Linked DNA regions of Homo sapiens: region 1 is linked to region 2. A link means that fine-mapping ties the variant in region 2 to the expression of a gene that starts in the linked region. Tissue or cell type: whole blood. Region 2 holds a variant in brackets; the other region holds the start of a gene. All regions are shown on one strand. Distances are between the middles of the regions.

The links. PIP is the estimated chance that this variant, and not a neighbour inherited with it, causes the effect.
Region 1: PKDCC starts here. The variant in region 2 is fine-mapped to the expression of PKDCC in whole blood (TOPMed, PIP above 0.99).

What each region holds. Positions count from the first base shown.
Region 1 is chr2:42,044,739-42,052,905 of GRCh38, forward strand. PKDCC (protein kinase domain containing, cytoplasmic) reads left to right here and starts at 3,283. Exons shown (of 7, transcript NM_138370.3): 1 at 3,283-4,100. The coding sequence starts at 3,462. RefSeq lists enhancers at 1,660-2,163, 2,164-2,668, 2,292-2,411, 3,912-4,171, 4,885-5,386 and 1 more and silencers at 2,582-2,871, 2,982-3,231, 3,382-3,561, 3,572-3,671, 3,802-3,871.
Region 2 is chr2:41,892,704-41,900,895 of GRCh38, forward strand. It overlaps LINC01913 (long intergenic non-protein coding RNA 1913), which reads left to right. Exons shown (of 3, transcript NR_033996.1): 3 at 1-1,343. Among named protein-coding and RNA genes, the nearest start is that of LINC01913, 19 kb to the left of the region's middle. RefSeq lists an enhancer at 3,841-3,890 and a silencer at 4,021-4,070. The variant T/A (reference allele first, on the strand shown) is at 4,099.

The sequences.
Region 1 (8,167 bases), 150 kb after region 2:
GGGCCAGCTCATGGAGGCCTGAAGGCCAGTTCAGCTTATCCTCCAGGTTTTTGAGTAGGACAGTAATACTCCAAAAGAGGTGTCTGAGCCTTGGCCTGCAGAGAAAAAGATGGACAATAAAGAAGGCAGATGGGAGGCTAGAATAACCCTTCAGACAGTCTAGGATGATGTGACAGAAACATGCAGAAAGAAGGTATTTAAAAGACACCTTAAAGAAAATTTAGCATTTTGGAGTCTGGGCCATCTGCCCTCTTCCCAAGGATTAATATCCAAGTAAGTGTTTTGAGTGGGGTAGGAGCATGGCAGAAAGATAGAGGGAGCAAGAAAGCATAGAGCATTGGACGTACTGAGCCTTCCAGACCTTGCACAGACACTGTGGTCTGAGGGCTGCCAGAAGCCCTGGGGGAGACAGGGAGGACTGCCAGCTGATGGCTCCTGTATGAAGATGGCACTGAGGGCTCTGAGCTGGACACTGGCCTGCAGACTCTGGCCTGTGAGGCCCAGGCTATGGGCTCCACCTGGTCTTTGAGTGGGTGGGCAGACTGCAGATCAGGGGCCTGCAGCAGCATTTCATGTATTTCAATTCTTTGAAATGATTCCTCTCCCTGGGTGGCAGAAAGGAAAAAAAAAAAAAAAAGCAAACAAGCAAAATATAGTTAAGAACTCAAGAACTGCCAATTCAGAAACTCTAATCTGCTCAAAAAGTTCAATCCCTTTCTTTCAGAAGCCAAAAACCCATTTCCATCTCAGATTGTATATGTCTGTGTCTGAGAGCTGGTGAGGGAGACAGTGAGTATGCGAGGGAGGCCACTGAGATGCCTTTGTTCCTGTGTGTGAGCTACTGCTCTGAACTGCTCCGTGGACCTGTGTGTGTTGCACGCACATTTGTGCCTGTTTCTCAGGCCCCTGTGTGCCTTGAACTTTCAAACCATAACAGAAACACTGAAGCTTGGCAAAGATATCACAGGAATAATTATCTAATTTCAGAACATGTTATTATAATACCTACATGATGTGTAACAAACTTAACAATGTTCATGTTATATTCACCTACTCTGAGCTGTAGACTCACAACGCCAAGTTTTACCCTCAGAAGTTTCTCCAAAACACAAGGGCAGAGCAAGCCCCAAAGAAAGTTCTTCAGGGAATATTCCCCCACAACAGCTCCCTCACGGATTGAGACGTTTGGCTGGGTAGATGTCTATGGGGAAATTGCTGGAAGGAGGACAGAGCCTATCTTGGGATGGCAACTGTTCCTCCCAAAATCCTCATTCCTCCCCAGAAAAGAAGACATGGAACTGATAAGGAACTAGCAGCCATATTGGGGTGACACAGGCAGACAGGCTTTTCCTGATTCAGCTGTGGGCCGGGGGGGGCCTCCTAATCCACCCAGCTCCCCGTTTTCCCCAGGGGTCTGAATTGGACCAAGGCTGAGTGTGAGGGGAATGGTTTGCTGTTTGCTGCTGTTCCCTGTTGACTTTAGCCAGTAGCTCTGTTTACAAACCCAGGTTGGTTTTCCCAGCACAGTTAATTAGACCAAAGACATCTGGTGCAAGGCTGCGGAGAGGGCATCTGCTCAGAGCCTTCCCCCTACACCCTGCAGACTGCAGCCACGGCCCAGAGTGGGGCAGAACAGCTCTATCGGTACAGACCTGACTCCACCAGACCCAGTGTTCTCGGAGGAATCATGGCTTCCTTCACCCTGCCTTTCCATGCTTGCCAAGTCGGACTGGGCCCCAACTCCCCAAGCCATAGAGAACAAGGAGTCCGGGCTGGAAGGCCCACCTCAGTGGGATCATAGGCTGGAGATCAGGGACTCAGCTCTCTCCTCGGTCCTTCCATGTCCAAAGGAACAGGGCAGAAATTCCTGTCCCTTTCTCATCACAGACACTGCATTCTGTAGGAACGCCAGACCTCTTCAGGGAAAATCTCCCCTCCCTGGATACCCCCCCACCCACCCCCACCCCCAGAAAAAAGGCTGTGGACCCTTCTCCTCCCTGACCCCTCCCCAGCCAATCCCTGACACTGTGAGGAGGACAGAGATTAACCTGGCCCAGAGGGAGGCAGGAAGCTGCCCAGGAAGGTGAGAGGATCTAGGTGGGCAGTTTCAGAGTGGCGGGGAAGAGGAGAGCTGCGAGGGGGAGGGGCAGCGGCTTATCTCTCCCAGGAGGGGGGAGCTCACTCCAAACAGCTAGTGCACTGGCGTGTGAAAGCCCCTCAATTAGCACTAATGATGCAATCAGGGAGGGAGGAGGAGGGACCGAAGTTCTGGTGGCGTCAGCACCAACTTACACACAAGGTACACATTCCCTTCATCGGACACAATGGCCCCTTCAGACACGCCGAGGCACACACTCCACAGACAGCCGTCCGTGGGCACAAACGCACTCTTTGCCCAAGCTACTAGCATGCACATGGTTTCTTATACGCGGCTGACCCCGTCAGACCCCAGGCATCTTGAGGGGTAGGGAGCGACCCCCAGCTGCATTTGGGGCTTTAGAGGCAAGGAAAATCAGAAACACTTTGGTAAAAGGAGTTGAACAGGGCATCCTCGGCGAGCTCACGAGCATTCCTCTATGCCTAGAGCTCCTGTCCCACGCGCGCTCGCAGGTGCTGGCCCGGCTGTGCCCGCTTCCCCCTCACCATCGCCCCAATCCGGAATCCGGGGCTGAGCGAGGAGCCGCCACCCCCGGCCCCACCCGCGAGAGACGGGGTCCACGCGCCTTCCCTGCGCCCAAACCGCCCCGAGGCCCCCAGTCCCAGGAGGGAGCGCTGAGATCACTCGGATCTCCGCACCCCGGACTTAGCTGCTCGTCCCCTCCGGAGCCCGCTACCCGCCGGCCTCGCCCCTTTATCTTTCCCCCACTCCGCCCGGCCGGCTCCGTTATCCACCTCCCAATCCCGTTATCCGGCCGCCCCGGCCCCGTTATCCGCCCTCGCGTTGGGCGCGGAGCCCCCGCGCGCCTCCTGGCCGCCGCCGCCCCCTCCCCCGCTCCCAGACGGAGCTCGGGGGACCGCGGGCTGGGCGGGACCGCGGGCTGGGCAGGACCGGAGCCGCCTCCGCGCCGCTTCCCAGGCCCGGACGGCCGCGGGAGGAGGTCCCGCTGTCAGTCAGCGGGGAAGGCCGGGCCGGGCGGCCGGAGGGGGCGGCGCCGAGGACGGGCTCGGGCCGGGAGCTGGGAGGTGGAGGCGGAGGGGCGGGGGAGGGGGCGGGGGAGGGGGCGGGGGCGGGGGCGGGGGGCGGCTCTGGGCCTTATAAGCGGCGGGGGCAGGGCGGCAGGGAGGCAAGTGTCAGGCCGATGTGTCGCCCGCGAGGGGCCGGGGTCGGGGCCGCCGGGGCCATGCGCGCGGGCTGGGCAGGGGGCCGGCGGGGCGCAGAGCGGAGCCGCCTCGGAGCCTGAGCCGCCCGGGGCCGGGGCCGGGGAGCCGCGCGGGGCCGGCCGGCCGGGGGGAGGGGAGCGATGCGGCGCCGGCGGGCGGCAGTGGCCGCGGGTTTCTGCGCCTCCTTCCTGCTGGGCTCCGTCCTCAACGTGCTCTTCGCTCCGGGCTCGGAGCCTCCGAGGCCAGGCCAGTCCCCTGAGCCTTCGCCGGCCCCGGGTCCGGGCCGTCGCGGGGGCCGCGGGGAGCTGGCCCGGCAGATCCGGGCGCGCTACGAGGAGGTGCAGCGCTATTCCCGCGGGGGCCCCGGGCCCGGGGCGGGCCGGCCGGAGCGGCGGCGCCTGATGGACCTGGCTCCGGGCGGGCCCGGCCTGCCGCGCCCCCGGCCCCCTTGGGCCCGGCCCCTGTCCGACGGCGCCCCAGGCTGGCCCCCGGCTCCCGGCCCAGGCTCCCCCGGCCCGGGCCCGCGCCTGGGCTGCGCCGCGCTTCGCAACGTGTCCGGCGCGCAGTACATGGGCTCAGGCTACACCAAGGCCGTGTACCGGGTCCGCCTGCCCGGCGGTGCCGCGGTGGCGCTCAAGGCGGTGGACTTTAGCGGCCACGATCTGGGCAGCTGCGTGCGCGAGTTCGGGGTACGGAGGGGCTGCTATCGGCTGGCGGCCCACAAGCTGCTTAAGGAGATGGTGCTGCTGGAGCGGCTGCGGCACCCCAACGTGCTGCAGGTACGAGGGTGGGGACGCGGGGGTAACGGTGTTGGCTGGGAGTGCCCAAGACCTTGTCAACCTGGCTGGAAGAGAACCCCTTGATCTGGAGTGCCAGTGACTGCACCCAGGCTAAGCTAGACGCAGAAACCGGACCATGGCCCTTCCCACTGCACCACCCTGCTTCTCACTCCTGGGTGGGCGTCCCTTTACCGGAGAACTCCTGGGTTTCTCGGCTTCCACACATCTCTTAAAGACAGGCCAGGACAGAGGCTCCCAAAACTCAGGGGGTGGGGCAGTCCATTAGGATTTAGGACTCTACTCCGGGCTGGAGTTAGGAGGTTGAACACCAGGGATATTACCCCAAGCCAAAATGACCCTAAGCCAAGACACTTGAGTCAGAATTCCAACTGTGTGATAAAGTCCCCCTTCTTGATGGAACTTCTCCCAACTTCCAGTGATTTGTCTGGTTTTGAAAATGAGACGGGACAGCAGTGGGGCTGGGAAGAGCTGGAAAGAGACCATGTGTCAGGCTTGATTCCTATAGAGTCTCCCCACCCACCCACCTCCAGCGCCACCCAGAAGACACTGGAAGGGGGCTGGGGAGCAGGCTAGAAAAAGGGAACACAGTCCTTCCCAGAAGTGAACTAAGGGTTCCCCAGGCCTTAAAGTGGGTCCTTGAGCCCCTGGAGAAGCCTGAAGGTCTCAGCTCAGTGGACAGACTGGCGGCCTGAGGATCTAAATGTCACACTGTCTGAGTGTATATAGATAGCCAAGAGGCTGGAAGGTTGAGAAGGCCAAATGCTCAGGTTCCTACTCAACGGGACTCTGCCTCGCCTGTTCACTGGAGACACAGGCGAGAGCTGAAACCCCCACCTTGTCCCCTCCAAGCTAGACTTTGAGTGGGCCTCTCACAGTCCCAGCACCGCCCTAACACTCCACGTCCTCTCTCTCAGGTCTCCCCCCATCCTAAGATTAGACAGACTATTCCCTTTGCACATGTCTGAGCAAACAGAGGGGAATCCCTGACCGCTGTTGGCCCGGTGAACATGGGTGTGTGCAGCCTCCCCAACGGATGAAATCTTGCACACACCTTCCACCTACCAGCCCACTCAAACTAACCTTTCTGCACCCAGCAGAAATGACTGGAAACCCAGGAGTCCCTCTCTCCTTTCCTTAGGAGTGAGATGGCACCCCAGCCCTGGAGGGAGATGGGTGGGCGTCGTAGAGCAGGAGAGACTGGCCCAAAAGTTGTTTATACTCCTGTTGGCTCCCAGTCTCCCCCTCCCCCATCGTATTCCCCAACCCTGGTCAGACACTTGTGACCGGGCCCTGGGCCCCAAACTGGTCTCAGGAGCTCGGGCAGAACCAACACTTGCGTGTAGTGAAGCCTGGCTGCACAGCTCACACCGTGTCTGCAGCTTCAGGGAGTGAGCCCCTGGTTACGTGGCCATTCTAACTGGGAGGATCTTGTACTCTTTCCTTCCCAGGGACTTTTGGGAACTTTTTGGAAACTCTAGGGTGTCAGCCAGATCCTGAGGGAGTGGAGAGGTCTTGAGTGACTTAGCAGGACATAAAGTCTTAGTTACTTGACTCAAGACCCCTCTCCCTTCAGACGGGTTTGATGTTTGATGTGCTTTCCTATCTTTTAAGAAACTTGTCCCTCACTCTTCCCGCCAGCTCAAACTTCCTGACAAGCATTCAGCTAACGCCCCACATATATATCACGTGACGGTCCTCCTCTGAAATGTCAGGCCCCCAGCCCAATTCTGAAGGCACCAAAGAAAAAATTACAACAGAATAGTTTTCACCCTTCCCTCACCAAACCAAGACCAGGGTTGTCTGGGGTTAGCTGTGTGACTCTTTATTGTAGAGTCCCAGACGAGAGTTAGTGGCCCCAGGGCACAAGGGTTGCTAAGGGAGAGAGGGTCACAGGTCCTTTCTACCCAGGAAAAGTGAAAAGTGGGGGGCCCTTTAGTGTGAGTTTAGGGACTGCTTTGATGGTGGCTCTCCCCCATTCATCTTCTGACCATCAGGCCAGTGTCGCTCTGGCCTCCTAAACACGGCCATCTTTGCTGGCAGGGAAGCCTACAGTGGGGTCTTCCTGCCCAGGAGGCTTCAGGGCAGGTGTACAGGGAACTAGAAATAATGCTGCTTTAATACCTCTGAGTTATTTAAAATTTCAAAACCATTTGACTGTTTGCTGAACTGGGGAGGAGTTAGAGAACATTTCTAGAGTTCCTAGTGGTGCAGGCTCACCACCCTCCCTCTCTGAGCAGCCCAGAATTGGTGCTGTGGATTCTAATAGAAAATGCCCAGGCTAGCAGGCCCCATTCTGCACCTCCCAGGGCTTTCTCTGGTCATGGGGATTGCCTGGGCGAGATCTTTCTATCCATTTTCTTTGACCCCTCCCCATCCCGCCCCTGACACACGCATACACACTCCCTCACGTGACTTGACTCCTCTATAGCCCAGGGCCAAAGGGCACAAGGGTCTCCCCTCCCCTCAACCTCTCCCCACCTCCCCCTCCCCCAGTCATCCTGGGGCCCCCAGGCCTTGGATGGGCCCCCAGGCCTGCCTGGGCCCAGATTCTGGCCCTGCTAGAGTATATTTCTTCTCCCAACCAAACAAAAGATGTGACTGAAATGCTCAGCCTCACGCTTCCTGGGGGGGGTTAATGGTGTCTTTTTATTTTTTCCTGAGGGGTGTTGATTAATACCTCGTTAACAGCGCATTTAACGACCTCCGGGTGTTTAATAACCTTCAGAAGTTTCCCACAAAGGCTCAGACTCTGGGCAAGAAAATGAGAACCAGGCCCCAGGGCTGTTCCCCTTACCTTCCCCCCACCCCACCAGGGTCTGGGGCTTCCCTGGACTGATGGGGAGGGGGTGGAGAGAGAAGAGGGTGCCTGGAGCTGCCCTGGCCCCCCAAGTCACAGCCCAAGAGTGAGGCCTTCCCCCATGCCAGCAGGATGACGGGGAGCTGAGGGGGCACTCCTAGGGCGGGAAGAGGACATGTGAGGACCTGGAGTGGCTCTGGGGAGGGTGTGAATGATGGTATGAGGGTGACAGTGCACAGGGATATCCACCCCTCCACCGCATAGCTCTCCTCTCCCTGAGTCGGGCCTGGACAACTCAGCCTTCGTGTTTCTACCCCACAGGGTGCTGGTTGTTTTGAGCACCATACGAGCCCCTAGCTGCTGTGGAGTATGTTGGAAGAGCCAGGGGGATGCCTGTGGGTGCTGTTAAGGTGGTAGTGACACTCAGGCTTTGCTTCCCAGAAGTCCCTGGGCAGTGCGGAGCTTCTCCCCAGATGACATAGAGTGGGCAGTTCCCTGTGACCGTAACCCCAAAAGAACTGATCTTCCAGGAGGAATCATCACTCACTACCACCCCCACTGATACACATCACTCATATGCAAAACACACCTGGGGATGTGCCCTCAGGTACCTTGTTCTTATCAACACTTGTTACCAGTCTAAGGGAACTTGCTTTTCCTCCCTCAAGACCCACGCAGAGAAAATTGAAGCTGCCAGAAGGTAGAAATGATGAGGGATAGATACAGATTCAAGGAGGGGAGGAAGGATAATGTCCAACCGTATGCTCGCTTGTGTATTACCAAACAGCATTCTTAGAAAAAACAGATTGTGGCCGGGCGCAGTGGCTCACGCCTGTAATCCCAACATTTTGGGAGGCCAAGGTAGGCAGATCACTTGAGGTCGGCAGTTTGAGACCAGCCTGGCCAACATGGTGAAACCCTGTTTCTACTAAAAAGACAAAAATTAGCTGGGCATAGTGGCAAGCGCCTGTAATCCCAGCTACTCGGGAGGCTGAGGCAGGAGAATCGCCCGCACCCAGGAAGCAGAGTGAGCTGAGATCATGCCACTGCACTCCAGCCTGGGCAACAGAGCGAGGCTGTCTCAAAAAAAAAAAAAGAAAAGAAAAGAAAAATAAATAAAAATAGGTTGTGGAATCCGAGTGGCACAAATTCACATCTTAGGCTCCTACATTGATCAGCTGTGCGACCTTATGCAAGCAACTTAACCTCTCTGAGTCAGCCTCCTCACCTGAAGTTGGAGATAATAATA
Region 2 (8,192 bases):
CCCTGGCCCTGGGCCAGGAGAGAGGTGGCGACGAGCTGCTCATGGCAATGACTTTCAGTCAGCATGTCTTACCTGTGCTTCCAAGGGTGGAGATGCCACTTTGAGTAGGTCACTGGGTCAGGCAGGTCACAAACCAAGCTCCTCCTACACAGTGAGTTCACGGAGACAGAGAGAAGGAAGGGAAGGAGGTTCTCAGCTCTACTGATTCCTTAGGTCAAGGAGGGACAGGGTCCCTGTACTTGGGGACCCTCCAGTCTGATGGGAAGATACAAGGCAACCCTCTTAGAGCCGTAGAATGAATGCCACCTATAGTTCCTCCCTTCAGGAAGGAAATCCAGTCTGATGGAAGAGACACGGCCCCTGTTGTATCATTCTTGCCTTCTTACCCATGTCACACAAGGGAGTGAAGGAGGTGGCAGGCCCAGGGATAGGTCCATTTCTGTGGTGAATGGAGGCTTTCAGAGGACATTCCCACAGCCCTGCTGTCAAGGGCCCCTTCCCCTTCCTCCCTCCCCGGCACGATGCCTTACCCACTGGAATGAATCCTGAGCTCTGAGCCTATTCCTAACACATGAATGCTGACCCCTTTGTCACGTCCCGCTTTCCCTCCAACTCTGTTTTTTGTTCTTTTTCCCACCCAGACTCGCCCTCCCCCACTTGCCATTTCCCAAGCTCATCCCGGGGAGACCAGACTCAATGGCCCACTGGTGATCTTGTTTTACATGAGACATTTCCAAAAAAGACCAAAAAATCCTTTCCAGGAAAATGCCATTTTTAAAATTCAGCTCCAGACACTGCGGCAACATTAGGAAAACAAAGGACTTGGCAGAAAGGTTTTCTGCGTGGGGACTTTCTCTCGAAAATACCTTCTCCAAATTGCCTCCAGTGGGGATGACTCCAAGGGTCAGTTCTGGAGCACCCAGGCAATTGCAGACAGAGTGACTTCGGGTTTGTACACTGTCCCAGGTCTTTCCTTACCTGATATCACCCTGGGATCTTCCAGGCTTAAACAAGGAGCCCCTTCCAAGGGTCCCCAAAGGAAGCAGCTGTCTCTGAGGGTCAAGAAATAATGCTGCTTCCTTCCTCCAGAGGGGACTCCTCAACCCCTCTCTTGCCACCATCACTAAGCCAGGGGCCCAGGTTAGGAGGTGGAGGGACATAGTGTGCTTAGTAGAGAGCTTGTCTTCTCTTATCATCCAAGTGAGAGGAATACACAGCTTCCCCTGGGGCATACATAGTGGTGTTCCCCTTTTTTGCATGTATCAGGTATAATTAATCAGGTTGACATCACATATGTAATAATAATGGCCATTATTTATTAAACACTTCCAATGTGTCCACGAGTAACCTGTTCTTTATGTTTGTTTTACCTCATTTAATCCTGGTAACGATTGTCATGGGCTGAATTGTATCTACCCACTCCCCACCACTCAACAAGACTCGTACGTTGAAGTCCTAACCCCCAGTACCTCTGAATGACTGTGTTTGGAGACACATCCTTAAAACAGGTAATTAAGTTAAAGTGAATCATAATTAGGGTGGGCCCTAATCCAATAGGATTGGTGACCTTACAGAAGAGGAAATGTGAACATTGTTAGGCACATGCTGGGAGGCAAGGACATAGCGAGAAGGCAGCCATCCGCAAGCCAAGGAGAGGGGCCTCGGAAGAAACCAAACCTACCGGTACCTTGATACTGGACTTCCGGCCTCCAGAACTATGAGAAAATTAATTTCTGTTGTTTAAGCCATCCAGTCCATAGTATCTTGTTATGGCAGCCTTAGCAAACTAATACAACACCCATACAATCAATCTTACCATCTTACCATTTTACAGAGGACAAAACAGTCTCGAGAGGGTATATAACTTTCCCAGCAAGCATATAGCAGAGCTGAAAATGCATAATCAACTGCGTGACTCTGGAACACAAGCTCTTAGAACTGGATCCTGCTGCTTCTCCTCTGTGCTCTACTATGCAAGTTCATGATCCATTTACTTATTGCTACAAAATAAACCATCCACAACTTATTGGCTGAAAACAACAACTTTTATTTTGCTCATGAATCAGCAATTTAGGCAGGGCTTGTTGAGAACAGCTCATCCCTGCTCCACTTGGTATCAGCTGGGACAACTTCAAGGATGATCTGACAATTGATGCTGGCTGTTAGCTGGGACCTTAGGTGGGGCTGCTGGTCCAAAATTTCATGTGGACTCTCTATGTAGCCTGAGCTTTCTCCTAACATAACAACTGGTTTCAAAGGCAAGCATCCCGGGAGACAGAGCCAGGCAGAAGCTTCTCTAAACAGCCGTAGCAGACACACAGCATCACTTTCGCCACATTCTCTTCCTTTGAAGCAAGTCACTGAGGCTGGTCCATGTTCAAGGGGAGAGGAATTCAATGCCACCTCTCAGTGGGAGGAACATCAAGGAATTTGCAGACATGTTTCAAAACCATTACAATGCATGTGCCATTGACATGCCTGAACATATTTTATGTCAAGTGTTTATTTACCACCAGCACAGTATCATCGAAAGGACATCAGACTGGAAGTCCAAAGTCCTGAACAAGAGCCTGTCAGCTGTGTGGGGCTGGGATTTCAACACCCATCTATGAAAAAACCAGTACCTGCTTGTCCACTCAGTTCAGCCACCCTCTATATGGAAATGAGGTCACTTAACCCCATTCCAGTCTCTAAAACCAATACTAATCCCAGTCAGCAGGTTAGTTAGAATGCTGCTCCTGGGGCACTTTATTTGACTCTCAGTTATGATAGCCTGGGTTCTCCCTGTCTCTGTGCCTGAGCCTGTCTTAGAAACGTAGCAGTCTATGTGTGGAGCACATCCTCAGGACTAGGCACTGTCACTGGTGCTTTATGTTTGCTATCTCATTCAGCTATTTCAACCCTATGAAGGAGGTTTCTTTATGCCCATTTTACAAATGAAGAAACTGAAATTCAGGGCAGGTAAGTCATTTGCCCAAAAGTTAGTAAAGGGCAGAGCCAGAACTATGAGTTGTGCTGTGGCCAGCTCTGTCTCCTCCAGGATCTGCTGTCCTGCCCCTGGACTGCCTGCCAGGACATCTGATGGCTTCTGGGTTGTCTGTACCTCTGCTCCTCTTGCCTTTTAGGGCCTCACCATACTTCTTGTTGAACCTTATCCCTGTCTCCTTCATGAACGACTCACTGGACTTCTACCATCCTGCATTCATCCTCCTGATCTAACTCCATATCCCAGCCCTCTGCATCTGCCCCAGCCTATCGTGCCCAACTGCACAGTGTCCTGGCATGGCTAGAGAGCAAGATCAAGCAAGAGAGCATCACCAGTGAAAAAACAAAAGCTCTGGAGTCAGACCGATCTAGATCCAAATGGTGGAGTGAGCTCCACCGTTTATTATTTGTGTATAAAAATAATGACACCCATGTTGCCTCGTTGTGAGGATTCTCGGTGAGTTAATACAAGTATAGGGCTTGGCATAGTGCCTGGCACCTAGCAAATGCTTAGTAAATATTAGTTATCTTTGCTGTTATTATCAATAATACTTGTAAAAGATCCACTAGAGAGCCTAGCATATGGTAGGCATTCAAAAAATGATAGCTGTTAATCTCATTGTTTAAGTCCTGGAAAAGCTACAGGAATTCAGAGAAGAGCCAGATAACAAGGTAGCAGAGACAGAAAACAGGCTGCCCAAGTAACTGCGCAGATCTGCAGATCTGTCTAATCCTAGAGCTTGGGTATGACTGGCCTTGATTAAGTGGAAACGCCTCCCTACAGAACTCCCATCTTCATCTGCCTCGATTAGGAGATGACAAGAGCTTCCTGAGCTTGGAAGCCCCTGGGAAGAGGAATTTCAAGAAGGAAAATCAGAAACACCCTGTCTGTGCTACGACTGCCCAGGATCCTCTGCTGTGGCAACATATATCACTGGCCACCCCACTGTGCCGTGTTCATCTAGTTGTCCTATATAGGTCTGTGGTTTCACAGGCTTCATCTGAGCCTGCAAGTTCTCAGAAAGTGGGTGAATGTGGTCAGAGTATGTTTCAGCCTCCCAGCCTCAAACCCACTCCAGGTTGAGATGTCAACAAAAACAGCAAGCAGGTGGG[T/A]AGAAAGCAACCATCAGATTTATAAAAGAGCTGTCAGATAACCACACACAGGCACTCACACTTGTGAGCATTTGAGAGCTGTGGTGCTGGTGCCCTCTTTTACCTTATTTTTCCTGCTGCTACCCTCCCAGGATCCTCACAACTAGATCCACCGATGCTCACAGCTCCTGAGTCAATGCTAACCAAGCTGGAGAGTATGTAAAGTTTGAGCAGATACAACGGCTTGGAATAATGTCACCAGCTCAGTTACAACTACTTGGCTCCTGTGTTCCTCCTGATTTTCCTTCAAGCCAGATGATCAATGAGGTGACAGGTATTTCCCCCAGACCACTCTCATTTCCCTTTTCCAATCATACATGGATCTGGTGCCCTCAGGGATGACCTCTAAGAACCCACATTCCTGCACCACGTTGCCTCTGAGCCTGAGCTCTCCTCTCCCCTCTCCTGGGCCCATTGTGATACAATCAGGCTCTTCTGTCCCTAATTTTGCCTAGGACCCAGTTCTTCTCTGTATAAGTCAGACATTGCTGTGATAATACTATGTAATAAACCATCCCATAATCTTAGTGGCTTACAAAAACAAACATTTATTTTCCTCACTCACAATCTGTGGGTTGGGTAGAAGGGCTGTGATTCAGGTGGTGAGTTGGGTACAGATCAGTTCCATATCTCTCTCCTGGAACCAGCAGCTACCTGGGATAGGCTCTTCTCATTACATATGGAAGCAGCACACAAAGGGGCTAGTGGAAGCCTCCCATGACTCTTAAGGCCTCAATTCAGAACTGTCTCGTTGTCACGTCCATCCATATTTCCATTAGCCAAAGCAAGGTAACTGGCCAAGCCCACAGCTGACAGCATGGGAATATAGGCTCTACCTCCTCTAGTAGGGTGCATGTAAAGCCATATGGCAAAGGGCATGGGTATATAATTCTATTGCAGGGAGGGAGTGGAGAATTGGAAATAATCATTCAGTCTCCAACATTTCTTAATCTAGAACTCAGTTACAAGCTCACCTGAGGGAATATACATCTTTTACTTGCCTGCTGGGCCTTCTACCCCTGATCCCAGCCCACTGGCCTAGGATGTGACTCTGAGTGAAGAAGTGTCTCACATGGAGACCCCGCCCACTTGGCTGCCAGTCCTTGGCTGTCACCAGCATCATTTACTCTGATCCACCCACCTGACTGTTCCTCTGGAATTCTTGAAGAAGCCTACCAGCCTAATTGGCTCCTCAGCCCTTATCTATACTGGCCTCAGGAGGGGCTAGAACCAAGAACTCAAAAACTGGAAAAACATTGGGGAACCAAGCAGTTTCTCCCACTCTCTCACTCTGCACTTCTGCTTCCTTCTCGCTGTGGGCATCAGCTTTCTCTGCTCCTCAATGGATGGTGGAATAGGGCCTGCTCTAGGCCTGGAGCCACTTTTGGCACCATCACCAGGATAAAGAGAATTCCAGTGTCCCATTTCCAGAGTCCCAGAGAAAGACCCCGGTCAACCATGGCTGGTATCATGACATAGAAACATGGTTGCCTACCCCTCTAGATGGAGGAGAAGAGAGGTGTGAGCTGCCAGACAGTAAGAAAAGCATGGAAACCAGAGGTTTCAGGCTGTAGTCTTCTGAGCTGACTCTGGCCAGAGATGTGTTTTGTTTGGCCCAAGGGATTTTTTTAATGTTTTCAATTACTTGACAAAAGTTAGAAATTGAGAGTTCACATATGAATCCAAATACTTTTTTCTTAAAAAAACTGAAAGGTCTCAATTGGAAAGGAGTGTGAGGGGCCTTATGGGTCCTGATGCTGTTCTGTTCCTCAATCTATGATCTATTCATGGAAAATTTATCAAGCCATATACTTAAAATAGATCCACTTTTCTATTTGTATATTACACCTTCTTTAAGTTTTAAGAATTTAGAAGGTCTATAATGAAATCACATTCCAGCAAGGAATAAGTCCTCTGGAGCTGAGTAGTTTTCCATACCACCATACCCCTCACTACTCCCCATTCTCTTCCTATCACTGAGGCCGAGGGTCAGTAGTCACTCATCATCGTCCTAGACTATGATTTTCTTATAACAGAGTTGGGAAGAAAGTAACTTTTATATGGACATTCATACATACATATCCATAACTCAAGCAAAAGGACAGACACAAAAGAGCATCAACGAGAGCTATGTGTTTGCATGTTTGCAAAAAAAAAAAAAAAAAAAAAAACGGAAAATAGCTTTTTATTTTTGGAGAAGTTAAAATCATTCTTCCAAGTTTGACATGCAAATGAAATGTGTCAGTATCAAAAGAATTCAAACAAAAAAGCTGTGAGGCTGGTAGGGAAACTTAACGATCTAAAAGAAAGTACTGATGTTTTAACATGTTTTATTTTTCAAAGCAAATAAAACAAATGACACAACTGTGAAATGAAGTTATGGAGAAGGAGAAAATATTGCTCATGCATTGAAACCTTTTATTAATGGTGAGTTTACAAAAGAGAATCTACTGAGGATAGAGAAATTCATACCTTGAACAAAAACAAGTATTTGCAAATGGAAGACTAAACAGAAACGCTGGTTGCTCAACAAGATGACGACATGGCTGAGAACTTACAGGACAGGTTGTGTGAAAAAGTTAAATCATTTGTGGCATTTCCTAGTGAAGCTTATGAGAGCCCAGTTAAAATAATACCACCCAGTCAGCTATATTTATTTATGGTTCCAAAGAGACTTCAATGTGATTGGAGAACTTTTGGTCATGGTGTCCATCACAGGCACAATTTCAGGAAATTACTTAGCTTTGTGTGTTGAGAAGCCTTGAAAAACTTAAAGCAGACAGGTCAAAATTAGTAAGCCTGGCTACAAAACAGAGCTCCTGAAATGATCAGCATTAACACTGACCTTGTTATGAATCTTAAATCTAAGGTGGCCAATTTTGCACAATTAGGGAAACTAAATAATTCACCAGGAATTGCCTTGTGCTAAAAAGTTAAAATAGAACACATATCATGGGCCTAGTGAATGGGACTTACTCCCATGGCTAAAAGCATAAAGAGTTCAGTGCTTTGCCTGATAAAGTGGATATGCAGTAGTCATAACACTCGTCTGTTCTAATAAATAAAGGGTAGTTAGTGTGTAATGTCGGGGTCTTTCATGGGTGGGAGGGGAGGAACAGCTGAAAAGTTATTAACTTGTTCATATCATCCAACAAAAATACCCCAGCTCACCAGCAAAGATTGGATCAAAGTATATGCCTTTTCAGTAAATATCACAAGCCATTTAACCCTTTTGGGTATCTCTTTAAGAATTATCACAAATATGCAAATGGCTATTCAGTTTTCTCATTCTTAGTGAAATTATATCTTAGGGAAACTCATTTGGCAAAGAATCATCTGGCTTATTTTCCTATGCTGAAATCAGTTTTCCAAAATGAAAGAGGTCTCTTCAACTGCTCTCTAAAAATTCTGGAGCTGAAGACAGGATGAGATTCCAAAAAAGTTGCTAGTTTTATGAAAATGATCTTTCTCAATATTGTGCCACAAATGCAATTTTTTGAACTCACCTTTCTCAGTATTGTAATATAAATGGAATTTTTTGAACCACAATTCATTCCCTAAAACTAAATTTTGCAACATTGGAATGCCAGAATTCTACAAATATCTCAGGAGTGGTTACCCTAAATATAAAAACCATCATACAAATATTCTATCAATGCTCAGCCATGAACAGCTGTTTTCCATTATGAAACTAAATAAAACGATTGCTCTCAGTTAAAAGATTCAAGGTTGAATTCTATACAGCACATCACAACATGAAATGCAAGACTCAACATTGACATGTTGGGGTAAAAGAAAAAGTGTCACATTTCTGGTTGTAAAGCAAAGAAGTAATGAGGTATGAAAGAAAAAAATTAATAATTACATATTTCTTTTTTTAATGTTACATTTTTCAATTTCAAACTTAATATATAATCCCCAATATCACACGTTTATATTATATTATGTACTTATGCCCTAGTCAAGTAAAAATGAAAGTTTGATTACATTTCTGGCTGTTGATTTTTCTTAAACCCAGTCCACTTTACTCATTTTTGTTGCCATTCTGAATTCTG